3 separate regions of the Homo sapiens genome follow, and all the other regions are reported to be linked to region 3. Evidence: microRNA targets listed by miRTarBase, many of them from high-throughput screens and not tested one by one. Region 3 holds a microRNA gene; each other region holds the end of a gene's coding sequence.
The links. The annotated mature microRNA hsa-miR-6861-5p reads ACUGGGUAGGUGGGGCUCCAGG and lies in region 3 at 1,686-1,707, shown strand. An mRNA with a match to its seed (bases 2 to 7 or 8) in the 3' UTR can be bound and repressed. Matches are read on the target gene's strand: a 7mer-m8 pairs with bases 2 to 8, a 7mer-A1 pairs with bases 2 to 7 and ends in A, and an 8mer does both.

Region 1 (4,143 bases), not on the chromosome of region 3:
GCGGATGGATCACTTGAGCCCAGGAGTTTGAGACCAGCCTGGGCAACGTGGTGAAACCCCTTCTCTACTAAAAATACAAAAATTAGCTGCGCTTGGTGGTGCGCGCCTGTAATCCCAGCTACTTAGGAGGCTGAGGCATGAGAATCGCTTGAAGCCAGGAGGCGGAGGTTGCAGTCAGCCAAGATTGCACCACTGCACTCTGGCCTGGGTGACAGAGAAAGAAAGAGAGGAAAAGAGGGAAGGGAGGGAGAAAGAGAGAGAAAGAGAGAGGGAAAGGGAGGGGGAAGGAGGGAGGGAGGGAGGAAAAAGGAAGGAAGGAAGGAGGGAGAGAGGAAGGTGGAAAGAAGGATGGGAAGAAAGGACAGGAAGGAAGAAGAAAAGAAGTCCATCCATCCCATCCATCATGCTTCTTCACCTGTCCAGTTTCTATCTATTATGGAAACCCATGATCTAGGTTTCCCCACCGTGGGAACAATGTTACTTAACTGCTTCAGCCCAGGTAGTGGTTTTATCACTAAATGGGAAGATTTCTGTCCTAATCAGTATCCTGTCAACCTAGTAGCTTAAGGACAAGCATTAGATTTCAGCTTTTCTTTCCTACCTTTTTAGTGGGGCCGCTCCTTAACTGAAAACAATTTCTCAAAAGTACTCTCCCACTATTTCTGCAGACCCTCTGGAGACTTTGGGGTGTGGCTGGTTCCTGAGCATATCCAAATGGTGCCTTCCCAGGTGTGTGTTCCCATCTTTGTGCCTCACAACAGTTCACTTGTATTTTCCCTCTTTGTCTGGCAGGACCAGTTTGACATGGTGAGTGATGCTGACCTTCAAGTCCTAGATGGCAAAATCGTGGCCCTCACTGCTAAGGTGCAGAGCTTGCAGCAGAGCTGCCGCTACATGGAGGCTGGTAGGACTGGGTAGCCCCTCCAAAGTGCCCATAGGCTTAGGTTCATTCTAGAGGTCAGGAATTACTAAATGAATGGTTCAATGACTGCAGCATCTTGTTGCAGCTAAGACCCCTTTGCTGGGCTCCCTTAGGCATAAAAAGAAATGTAGGATAACTAACGGCTTTTGTGTACCAACAAATGGACAAGATACGCATTTGTTCTCCCTGCCACGATTATCAGTACACTGTCCCCACGTTTCCCTTTATTCCTGCTTCTTTAACTGGCTACGCCTAAGTAAGTGTTCAACCTCACACCCACGCCACTTGTAGATGGAGGAGGAAAGAAAATTAGAAGAATAAATAATCCTGTATGGCTTAGTTTCCATGTGAGATGATAGATCCAGAGCAAGGTGGAACACCTCAGGGAGCACCCACTGGGAAAGACAGAACTCCTTCCTCAGGGGTAGCAAGTGACCCCAGGCGGATGTGGTTTCAGAGCTCAAGGAATTATCTAGTGCCCTGACCACACCAGAGATGCAGAAAGAAATCCAGGAGTTAAAGAAGGAATGCGCTGGCTACAGAGAGAGATTGAAGAACATTAAAGCAGCTACCAATCATGTGACTCCAGAAGAGAAAGAGCAGGTGAGCTGGAAGGCTGTAGGACCGCTGTGCAGGTCCAGAGTGAACATCAGGGCTGAGCCCCAGAGGGCTGCTGTGGTTCTGAGGAGTTAGAGGAACTTGCTTTTTCCTTCTAGGTGTACAGAGAGAGGCAGAAGTACTGTAAGGAGTGGAGGAAGAGGAAGAGGATGGTAAGTGTGTGGGAGCTCCGAGACAGGCCCTGGAGGTGCCTTTGAAAATGGCAGGCACCAGATCAGCCGCTACACAATATCATAAACTGACAGGCAGTGCCCAGTGCTGCCCATCTGAAAACGGGTGGTTTTATTTCTTGTCAGGCTACAGAGCTGTCTGATGCAATACTTGAAGGATACCCCAAGAGCAAGAAGCAGTTCTTTGTAAGTGGAGCTCTCTTCCTTCTTTGCTTCCCTGTGGTCTTATCCTGGTGACATCTCATTCACTTGTCTCCCTGTCTCACAGGAGGAAGTTGGGATAGAGACGGATGAAGATTACAACGTCACACTCCCAGACCCCTGAGGGGCCCACGGTCAGGACTGGTGGGGACTGCAGGATGTCAGAAGAGTGAGATGTCTTGCACTGGCTACCTTGTTTTTGGTTGGCTTTTGTTGTTGTTCCTGCTACTTTCACCTTTAAGCAGAGCAGTCAGGAGACAAGCATAAACCAGAGCACTGGGTAGAGAGGATGAGGGCTGGTGGCTGGGGGTAGACCCAGCCCATTTCATTGTCTAAATTGCAGTAGCTTGAGGTTAACATTTAGACTTGGAACAATGCTAAAGGAAAGCATTTGGCAATATTTATTATAATTTAATTTTATATAAAAATATTTAATTTCCTCTGGATAGTCAAACCTGCCAGATATCAAACCTGAGGAAGGCAGAAGTGAATTTGGAGAACTAGGGTAGAGAGAGGTTGCTATAAAACGAGCATTTGGAGGGCCCACGGCTTCACTCAGGACCTGCTGGGCTTGTGTACCCCAGGAGCCCTTTTAAGTATCTTTTGTACGCTTTTCACCCCACCCCCAAGTCCTGGGAGAAATGCAGGCAACACTGAGACATGGGAGAGGCCAAGATATGCTTGACAGAAAGGGTGATTTTGAGGCTCAGTTAATATTTCAAAATTGTAACCGTAGCAAAACTGCATTGGTATTTAGAAAAATAAAAAATTTCCAATATGTAGTGCTGTGTTATACCTGCCTCTGCCATGCAGCATCATAGCCTGTGGGAACCGGGAGGGCTTCCCTTACCACCCAGAGCAGAGGAGGAAGGTGATGGAATATGGGGTGAGGGGAGGAACCTGGTGGCCCCTCCCTGAGATGGCCAGAAAGCCCTTGGCCTCACCTGGGACTGACCAGGCAGCCCTAGTCTAGGCACAAGGTGCCCTTTCACCCTTCATGGCTGTGGGAATATTTCCTCTTACTCTTTTTCTCCCATACAGCTACTGCCAAAATGCCCAAACTTGGGCCAAATGTTGCCCAAACTTGGGCCAAAAATGTTGCCCAAGAGACCAAAACAGAGGAAAACAGTTTCCAAATCTATGTAGATCATGAGCAGAAATCTGAGGCTTGAATAAAGGGCTGAGAGGGCAGGAGCTCTTTGGGGTGTCCAGAGCAGACGCCCATCCCAAGGACTTCCATGGAGTGGGGGGAAGGCTGGGTAGGTTTGAGTTTTATCGTCAATATAATAAATTAATCAGAAGCTTTCACAAAACAAACACCGCGGCTCCGCTGAAGATAAAATGGGGCTGGGAAAAACCAAACACCAAGTAGAAACCAGCTGACCAGTGTGAGGTGTTGTAGTCCAGTCTCCCGGGCCCAGCAGTTCAGTGGCCACGTAGAGATTCAAGGGCCTCTTGTTGGCTGTTCTCCAGGTTTCCAAGAACCGGTCAGTAAAGCTGGTTTTTCAATTGGTGCAGGACGCCAATCACAATCTCCCGCAGGGTCTGGCGAGGGCAGCAGAGGAAGAAATAGACAATGCCCAAGTCAACGCAGAGTAGTTTCCAAGATGCCTGCCTAGATCAGCCATGTACTTTAGAAAAGTGCTTTAAAAATAGCCCCCCGGGGGCCAGGTGTGGTGGCTCACGCCTATAATCCCAGCACTTCGGGAGGCCAAGGCGGGTGGATCACCTGAATTTCAAGACCAGCCTGGCCAACATAGTGAAACCCCGTCTCTACTAAAAATACAAAAATTAGGTGTGGTGGCACATGCCTGTAATCCCAGCTACACAGGAGGCTGAGGTATGAGAATCGCCTGAACCCAGGAGGTGGAAGTTGCAGTGAGCTGACATCACACCACTGCACTCCAGCCTTGGTGACAGAGTGAGACTCCGTCTCAAAAAAAAAAAAAAAAAGCCCCCAGGAAGTACTGATGTCTGCAGTTTAATTTGAGGTGCTCCTGAAGCAAGATGGAGAGATGGAAATATAGTAAAATGTTTCGGTAAAATTTAGGGAGCGGGTATACGAGTGTTCACTGTGAACTCCTCTCAACATCGCAATATGTTTAATGTGTTTCACAATAAAAATGTTGGGAAACGAGGCCAGGCACAGTGGCTCATGCCTGTAATCCCAGCACTTTGGGAGGCCGAGGCGGGTGGATCACAAGGTCAGGAGATCGAGACCATCCTGGCTAA
Region 2 (4,139 bases), not on the chromosome of region 3:
AGGTACATCAACAAGGCGCTGGAGTGCTTCGACTCCTCGGTGTTCGGGGCCATCTACTACGTCGTGTTTACCACGCTGGTCCTGCTGGCCTCAGCCATCCTCTTCCGGGAGTGGAGCAACGTGGGCCTGGTGGACTTCTTGGGGATGGCCTGTGGATTCACGACCGTCTCCGTGGGGATTGTCCTTATACAGGTGTTCAAAGAGTTCAATTTCAACCTTGGGGAGATGAACAAATCTAATATGAAAACAGACTAGATTGCAATAGGAGCTTGGATGGTTCGAGGAATAGGCATTGGAGGTGGTTTCTGGCCGTGATTGGATGTGAAGTAGAAGAGGTCCTCGATCATGGTGTTAGAATTGACTGGATAGTAACAGGTGGTCTGGTGGATAGCGGGGAGCATGGCTCAGCACCAGAGCAGAGGCCCAGCCAGCCCTCTGCAGCCCAAACGTCCCCAACGGTTGCCTGGCACCATCTCTCTCTGATGAGACGAATCTCATTTTCATTTCCATTAACCTGGAAGCTTTCATGAATATTCTCTTCTTTTAAAACATTTTAACATTATTTAAACAGAAAAAGATGGGCTCTTTCTGGTTAGTTGTTACATGATAGCAGAGATATTTTTACTTAGATTACTTTGGGAATGAGAGATTGTTGTCTTGAACTCTGGCACTGTACAGTGAATGTGTCTGTAGTTGTGTTAGTTTGCATTAAGCATGTATAACATTCAAGTATGTCATCCAAATAAGAGGCATATACATTGAATTGTTTTTAATCCTCTGACAAGTTGACTCTTCGACCCCCACCCCCACCCAAGACATTTTAATAGTAAATAGAGAGAGAGAGAAGAGTTAATGAACATGAGGTAGTGTTCCACTGGCAGGATGACTTTTCAATAGCTCAAATCAATTTCAGTGCCTTTATCACTTGAATTATTAACTTAATTTGACTCTTAATGTGTATATGTTCTTAGATTAGAATAATGCAACTTCGAGTATGCTTTAATATTTCAATATTCAAGTTACAAATGTATAAGGCAGTTAGAAATAATACAGTCACATGTCACTTAATGATAGGGAAACATTCTGAGAAATGCATTGTAAGGTGACTTTATTGTGTGAACATCATGGAGTGCACTTATACAAACCTAGATGGGACACCTATGACCCACCCAGGCCAGATGGTACAGCCTGTTGCTCCTGGGCCACACACCTGTACAGCATGTGACCGCACTGAATACCGCAGGCAATTGTAACACAGTGGTGAGTATTTGTGTTTACAAACATAGGAAAGGTACAGTAAAACTATGGTATTACAATGTTATGGGACCACCGTCATGTAAGTGGTATGTCTTTGACAGAAACATGGTTACGTGGTTCATGACTGTATATTCACTGGAAGATAGTCAAGACTAAAGACACATTAGAGCAAATTGACCCCTTTAACATGTGATTATTGTCCAATTAAAGACAGTTGATTTAAGTAGCATGAGGTATTATTTTATTTGTATTCGATCTGTGTTACCTGGGATCCAGTATCAAATATATCCACATTCTTTATCAGCAAGCATTCATGGCCATTCAGAAGAAATAAATTAGGTAACTTGATAATAAGGCTAAGTGGGAGAGTACCTGTTCAATAGCTCATATATCGAGTACCCTGTCATACAGGAACAAGTTAAAGGACACAATTGAGGTTAGGCTAGCTTCTACAAATTGCAATATGCAGTTTTTGAAAGATTTTCTAACAAAAAGCCAATAAATGTAGCCATCTCCTTGTTGTTTGCAATGGCAGAGCATCCTAGAGTTCCTCAGCTAACCTCTCATTATGTGTCTTAAATGCAAAAGAGCCATTAATTATGCCAGTATTTGAATCAAAGAGGTCATTCTCTGTCTATAGTGTTCCCATCCATGTGTTCCAAATGGGAGCATAGCATGAAGTGATGCACATATTTCACCACGGTATCATGTACTTCATGGCCAGTGTTTTATCTCAGCAGGGAACTACGCCAAGTTGAAAGATGGGGTTGGGTAAAGTAGATTAGGTGAAGTAGAACATAAAATTGAATAGTACCCAATTAAAGTTCCTCAGTAAGAAAAAAAATGTGTTTTTGTAGGCAAAAAGAACATTTCTAAAGTCTCAAGGAATAGCTTCCTAAAGTGTTGAGTAAAGAGGCTAAATAAAATGAGACTAGTTTAATATAGAGAGAAAAATACCTTTATGGAGTAAACGTGTACATGATGATCATGGGTTGTCAGTGATTTGTGAACTGAGAGCAGCAACAACATTATTTTTTAAAAATCTTAAATCCTCTCAATGGATGGTTAACAAATGCTCAAAGTCCATTACTCTTTTTATTGGCTCTTGCAGGTTTTGTGTTTTATCATCAGTGCTTTTAGAAATGCAGGCCTTAACTTACTGAACTGAACTTTCTGAAAACGTAATGTAGCAGTATCAATATACTTTTGGGCATAAAAATAGTTTCCTAGGTAAGGGGTGTGAGATATTCAAAGAATACATGTGGCTAACAAGTGTAATGAGAAAGTTCATGTGTCACATGAAAATGATCATGTTTGTGTTGCTACAGCTTTTGTGGGAAATTTAGTTTAAAGGCAGCTCTTGGTGTACCTTAGTATATTTTAATCCACAATTATACCATTGATACTGAGAGGTGATACCCGATGATCTTCTCTATAATATTCTTAGAGTAAAACAAAATCTCAAAAGTATTAATAGCTCTTCTACCCTTGAAGGTGACTGGTCCTGGGACAGTTAGAATCTTTCAGGTTTACCTCTGTTCAGCAGATACTTCAGTAGGATACATAGCTTTTCTTCCAGTGAAACAAAGTTCATATCATCCATTGTTTTTCAAGCACGTGACACCAGCCTCAAAGTAAATGACATGACCAGTGGTTGAACAGTCTAATTTTCAAATTTAATATAGAGCATATAACTTCTGATTTGATAGTATTTATTTTAAAAAATTATGTTTTCATCATTCATTTGAAAATGAAAAAGCCCCAAAGTGAGAACTTTGGGGGAGGGCCTAGAACATGGATAGATCTCTTAGTGGTCTTTCCAAAAGTACATGTACTTGAAATATTTTCATTATCATACTATTCTTTGAAAAAAAAGATGCTTACTGTATACTTGTTTTCAAGCATCCTCTAAAATCAAAGGTTTTGATCACAATATGCAGATTTCTCTTGATAGATACTTAAATAGGCTATTTCTCTCCTCTTCTTGGGCAATGCCTTGTTTTCTCCTCTGAATATTTGCATTTGAAAGGATTGCTTCCTGTTCTGCTCATTGATCAAAGGTAGGGCCAATTAAGGATTCTAACCCTAACCCAGCACCACAAAGCCCCCCTGGAGCATCTTCCCGGCTGGCAGGACCATGCCATCTCTGTGGAGAAGGTGCTGGGGAGGGAAGTCCTTCCAGTGCCACATGGAGTGAGGCCCTGCCCATGCTGGGGACTTTGGGGAGGAATTTGGTATTCTGGTGGCCTTGCTCAGCTCTCATTGAGATCTTTTCCTATCAGAATGTTAGTGAATATACTTCGCAGCTCTTTGTTCAGCAATAAGGAATATTCTTTCAATTCCTGCTCTTCAAGCCAATTTACTACACCCAGTTGTCTTTCCAGAAGTTCATCCCAGCGGTAATATGTTGGTGTTTGTTCTTCTTTGGATTTCACATCTGTTTTCTGGTAGAAGTGAGCACTGTTCACTTGTGCAGTCGTCTTATTTTCCTTCTTCCTAGATGACTCAGCTCTTTGTAAATGTTGTGCTCAACTTCTAGGGGCCAGTTCTAGACTTTGGAGATGCAGTGTCTCCCAGGTGTGCACGGACACCTGGTCCGTGGAAACAGGTGTGATGGGCACAGGCTGCTGCCCTTCTGTCTGGTCGGGGGATTCCTCTTCTTCAAGCTGCTCAGCTAACCCAGAAGAGGGGAGAGAGTACTCCGGTGGTTCCCAGAGCCCCTCCCGTTGTGCCGCTTCGACCTGACACCTGCTCGATGCTGACTTAGGCTTCCTGCCACCAAGCAGGAAACTAGAAAGAGAACATTTCAGTGTAAGGTCTGTTCCCGACAGCATGGATTAGCTTCCGTGTTCTGAAGTTGTTCTTTTCATGGTGTCTGACAC
Region 3 (4,143 bases):
TGCAGTGAGCTGAGATTGCGCCACTGCACTCCAGCTGACAGAGCGAGAATCTGTCTCAAAAAAAAAAAAAAGAAAAAGCGGTCTGGGTGCAGTGGCTCACACCTGTAATCCCAGCGCTTTGGAAGGCTGAGGCAGGTAGATCACCTGAGGTCAGGAGTTAGAGACCAGCCTGGCCAACATAGTGAAACCCAGTCTCTACTAAAAATACAAAAATTGACCAGGCATGGTGGTGGGCGCCTGTAATCCCAGCTACTCGGGAGGCTGAGGCAGGATAATTGCTTGCACCCAGGAGGCGAGGGGTTGCAGCGAGCCAAGATTGCGCCATTGCACTCCAGCCTGGGCAACAAGAGCAAAACTCCGTCTCAAAAAAAAAAAAAAGCAAGCATAATTAGCCTCAAGCAGTCTCTCCCAGCGCACGGGCAGAGGTGGCCTCCAGTGGTAAAGGGTTTCCCATCATAGTCGGTCCATGCCAGTGAGAGAGGATCGCTGCCTCCAAACAGACGTGGGAAGAGGCCTGGAATGTGGGTCTCTTTAGCCTGGCCTGGGTCACACGCCCGGCCCTGAACTGATGGCAGGTTCTGATTGGCGAAAGCTGTGTCACATGCTCATCTACACGGCCGAGGGTAGACCCCACCAGCTGCGCTTGGGGTTTACCCAGCCACCTGGGGATCAGGGTTCCACCTCCCATGGCCTCATAATGAGCCTCGCTCTGCCTCCACCCTCCAGATCAATGATGAGACCGAGCTGGAGGCCCTGTGCGCTGAGATCGCCTCCCAGCACCTGGCCACGGAGAGCCCTGACAGCCCCAACAAGCCCTGCTGCAGGTTCACCTACCTGACCATGACGGGCGAGGAGGTGGAGCTGTGCAGCCGGGGCCGGCACATCCTTGTGGCGTGAGTGTGTGCGCGTGTCAGGGGCTGGCAGGGGCTGGCCCGGCCAGCCAGCCAGGGTATGACAGCAGCATCTGTTCCTGGGCAATGACACGAGGACCTAGGTCAGGTGACAGGTGGATTTCACCAGGAGAGGGAGATGAGGCAGGATGGTGGGTGCCAAGAAAGAGGGTCCTCAGCAGAAGGGGTTTACTAAGAAAACAGCAGCTCTGAGGCGGCGGCACCAGAGGCAGGAAAGGACTGGGATGACCAGGGCGGCTGGGCCCCAGGCCTCTCCCAAGAGAGGATCCGGGACCTCCAGCTGAGTGGGTGTGGCCCCCAGACCCAGCCTCTTCGGCGGTGTTCTCCCTCACCTGTGCTCCTCACCCGGGCAGGTGGGAGAACAAGGACATCTACGCGGCAGCCATCCGGAGCCTGCGGCTGCGGGAGCTGCAGAATGTGGAGTGCGTGACGGCCGTGCGGGCCGGCCTGGGCTCCATCATCCCCCTGCAGCTGCTGACCATGCTCAGCCCACTGGAGATGGAGCTGCGCACCTGCGGCCTCCCCTACATCAACCTCGAGTTCCTCAAGGTAGACATCCCAGGGCCAGGCTGGGCGGGGAGGTGGTGAGCCCCAGGCGTGCCTCCCTGTCACCCTCAACTCCAGCAGCAGGCATCGGCAGTGGCCTGTCTCAGCTCTGTCCTTGCCACAGACCTGTATCATTGTCATCATTGTCATCTCCCTGTGCTCACAGCCCACACGTTGCACCCTGCCCCAGGATTGGGCCTGGCCTGCAGACCCCAGGGCTGGGGAGGCACTGGGTAGGTGGGGCTCCAGGGCTCCTGACACCTGGACCTCTCCTCCCCAGGCCCACACCATGTACCAAGTGGGGCTGATGGAGACGGACCAGCACATCGAGTTCTTCTGGGGGGCCCTGGAGATGTTCACCCAGGAGGAGCTGTGCAAGTTCATCAAGTTTGCCTGCAACCAGGAGCGCATCCCGTTCACCTGCCCCTGCAAAGATGGGGGTCCCGACACTGCCCATGTGCCCCCGTACCCCATGAAGATCGCCCCCCCAGATGGCACAGCAGGTACCGCCCTCCCCTGGCCATGTCCCAAGTAGGGACACACTAGCCTTTCTCTGTTTGGAACTGGGGCTGCCAGGCCCCATGTGAAGGGAGAACAATGAACAGGAGCCCCACGTGCCAAAACTCAGACATCATTGAGGATTAGGGCCCGGCAGGAACCAGCCATACAGGCCTGCTGTTAGATACTTTCTCATATCTTAAAAGAAGCTGAAAATCCAGAATGCTTCAAATCTTCTAACTTTTAAATGCAGAAAAATGGTTAAAAAAAAAAAAAAAGAAACAATTTGCTGGGCAGACAAACCCATCAGCAGTTTGGCACATGCGCTGTCCAGCAGCTCTCTCCCCTTTTCCCTCCAAGAACATCTCGCAGGTTCCCAGGCCCTCATCCCCCTCCTGCTGGGCCCCAGGATTGGCTTGGGGCTACCCAAGGAGGCAAACCTGGAAGCAGAGGCCAGCCCAGCTTCCCTGGGAGCCTCACAGATGTGGGCCCAACCCTCTGATGCTGGCTCGGTTTCTTGTAGGTTCCCCAGACTCTCGCTACATCCGCGTGGAGACCTGCATGTTCATGATCAAGCTTCCCCAGTACTCCTCTCTGGAAATCATGCTGGAGAAACTTCGTTGTGCCATTCACTACCGTGAAGACCCCCTCAGTGGCTGATGGGAGGGAGCCCCAGAATTAGGCTGTCACTGAGGCACCCACTCTGCTGGCTTGGGAAGCCACCACTGCGGCCCGTCCCTCCAGGGCCCTGCGTGAGGAGTTGGCAACATTTTGCTTTTCCAAACTTTCGTCCACATTCCAGGGCCTCCTGGAAGACTTAACCTTTTGTCTTTGTACGTTTCGTGATGGGTTGGTTCTTTTGCTGCCTGTTTGTGGTCTATTTGTAGGATAGTTTAGTTCCCAGACAGTTTGTGTCTAATTTGATCTTCTTGGACATTGTCCCTCATGGCCACCAGATTCTAATGCCATAAGGCCCCAGCTGGTTCCCCATCACAGAACCACCCAGCAGGAAGCCGGGGGTACAATGACCTCGGCCACACAGAGCGCTCGTGCTTTCAGCAGAGCGCCTCCACAGACAAGCCTGTGGCCAGCCCTGCCCTCCAGCCTCGAGCTGGAGTTGCTCCAGAGGCAGCCCCAGCAGGCCTCCCTCCACATAGAGGTGGCTGGGCCAATTGCCCAAACACGTGAGACACACAGGGAGCTTTATGTGTTCATCTTCCTGCTTTAGAACTTGCTCCCGGTCTTGGTTTTTCTGAGGAAAAGCCCACAGTGGTTCCCCTGCCCCTCCCATACCTCCCTATCTGCCGTCTGTCTCTTTGGGCCCTGGTCTGACAGTTTTCATCTGAGGCCTCCTCGGGAGCAGGAGACTTAAGGGTTCATCCCGACCTTAGTTCACAGAGCCTAGCTGGGTGCATCCCAGCCGCAGGGGGTGAGAAGACACCCAGAGATGGGGGACAATGCTCAGGTGGGGGCCTCCTCCGAGACTCTGGTTGAGAGGAAAGCACATGATTCAAGCCTACCCCACAAAAAAGGAGCACAAAATGCTCAGAAATGGCCCTTCCTCCCTGCAGTGACGTAGGACAAGGGAAAGGGCCACACCCATTTTCAAAAGAGTGGACTGAGGTGCTCTGCTCAATTTGGGGTCTGCTTTAGTGACCCAGACACTCAAGTCCAGATGGAGACTCCAGGGGGGTCCTTCTGCCCCTCTGGCCAGCCCCACCCAGCACTCCCCATCACCCCATGTAAGTGTGTATGCCAGGGCTGAGCTGCCTCCAGGCTCACCCACTGCATCTTTGCCCCAAATAGGTCTTTGTCCAGTGGTACTTTGTTCATGAGCAGCACAGGCCATCTTGTTGGACACTGTCACTTTGGGCCTTGCCAGGTCTCACAGAATCACATCGCTGTATTTATTGTATAATATTGTGAATATTGGAAGTTTTGAGTGAGTGCTGTCTAGAAGGTTTTGGAGTGTGGATGCTGGTCCAAGAAAGAAGATGTGCCCTGGCCTGCTGGAAAGATTGTGAATTCTAGAGATAGAGCCGTTAGCATCCATCTCCTCCCTGTAACTCTTAGGAAATGCATCAAGGACCATTATAGAAAGGATCCCCTGACCTAAGGATGAAATCGACCTAGGGTTAATCATGACAGCTGCATCAGTTGTATTGGATGCAAGTCAACTCTGGAGGTG

Region 1: miRTarBase lists MLX as a target of hsa-miR-6861-5p. Seed matches in the 3' UTR shown: 7mer-m8 at 3,167-3,173 and 7mer-m8 at 2,188-2,194.
Region 2: miRTarBase lists NIPA1 as a target of hsa-miR-6861-5p. Seed matches in the 3' UTR shown: 7mer-A1 at 3,935-3,941.

Annotation. Positions count from the first base shown.
Region 1 is chr17:42,570,860-42,575,002 of GRCh38, reverse strand. MLX (MAX dimerization protein MLX) reads right to left here. Exons shown (of 8, transcript NM_198204.2): 8 at 1,800-3,456. The coding sequence ends at 3,400. PSMC3IP (PSMC3 interacting protein) reads left to right here. Exons shown (of 8, transcript NM_016556.4): 4 at 793-904; 5 at 1,380-1,525; 6 at 1,639-1,692; 7 at 1,837-1,896; 8 at 1,979-2,693. The coding sequence ends at 2,035. Among named protein-coding and RNA genes, the nearest start is that of PSMC3IP, 4.8 kb to the left of the region's middle.
Region 2 is chr15:22,823,985-22,828,123 of GRCh38, forward strand. NIPA1 (NIPA magnesium transporter 1) reads left to right here. Exons shown (of 5, transcript NM_144599.5): 5 at 1-4,139. The coding sequence ends at 255. Among named protein-coding and RNA genes, the nearest start is that of NIPA2, 13 kb to the right of the region's middle. RefSeq lists an enhancer at 2,905-3,657.
Region 3 is chr12:112,160,859-112,165,001 of GRCh38, reverse strand. It overlaps MIR6861 (microRNA 6861), which reads left to right and starts at 1,681; the gene lies at 1,681-1,744. HECTD4 (HECT domain E3 ubiquitin protein ligase 4) reads left to right here. Exons shown (of 76, transcript NM_001388303.1): 73 at 727-893; 74 at 1,265-1,460; 75 at 1,738-1,960; 76 at 2,479-4,143. The coding sequence ends at 2,615.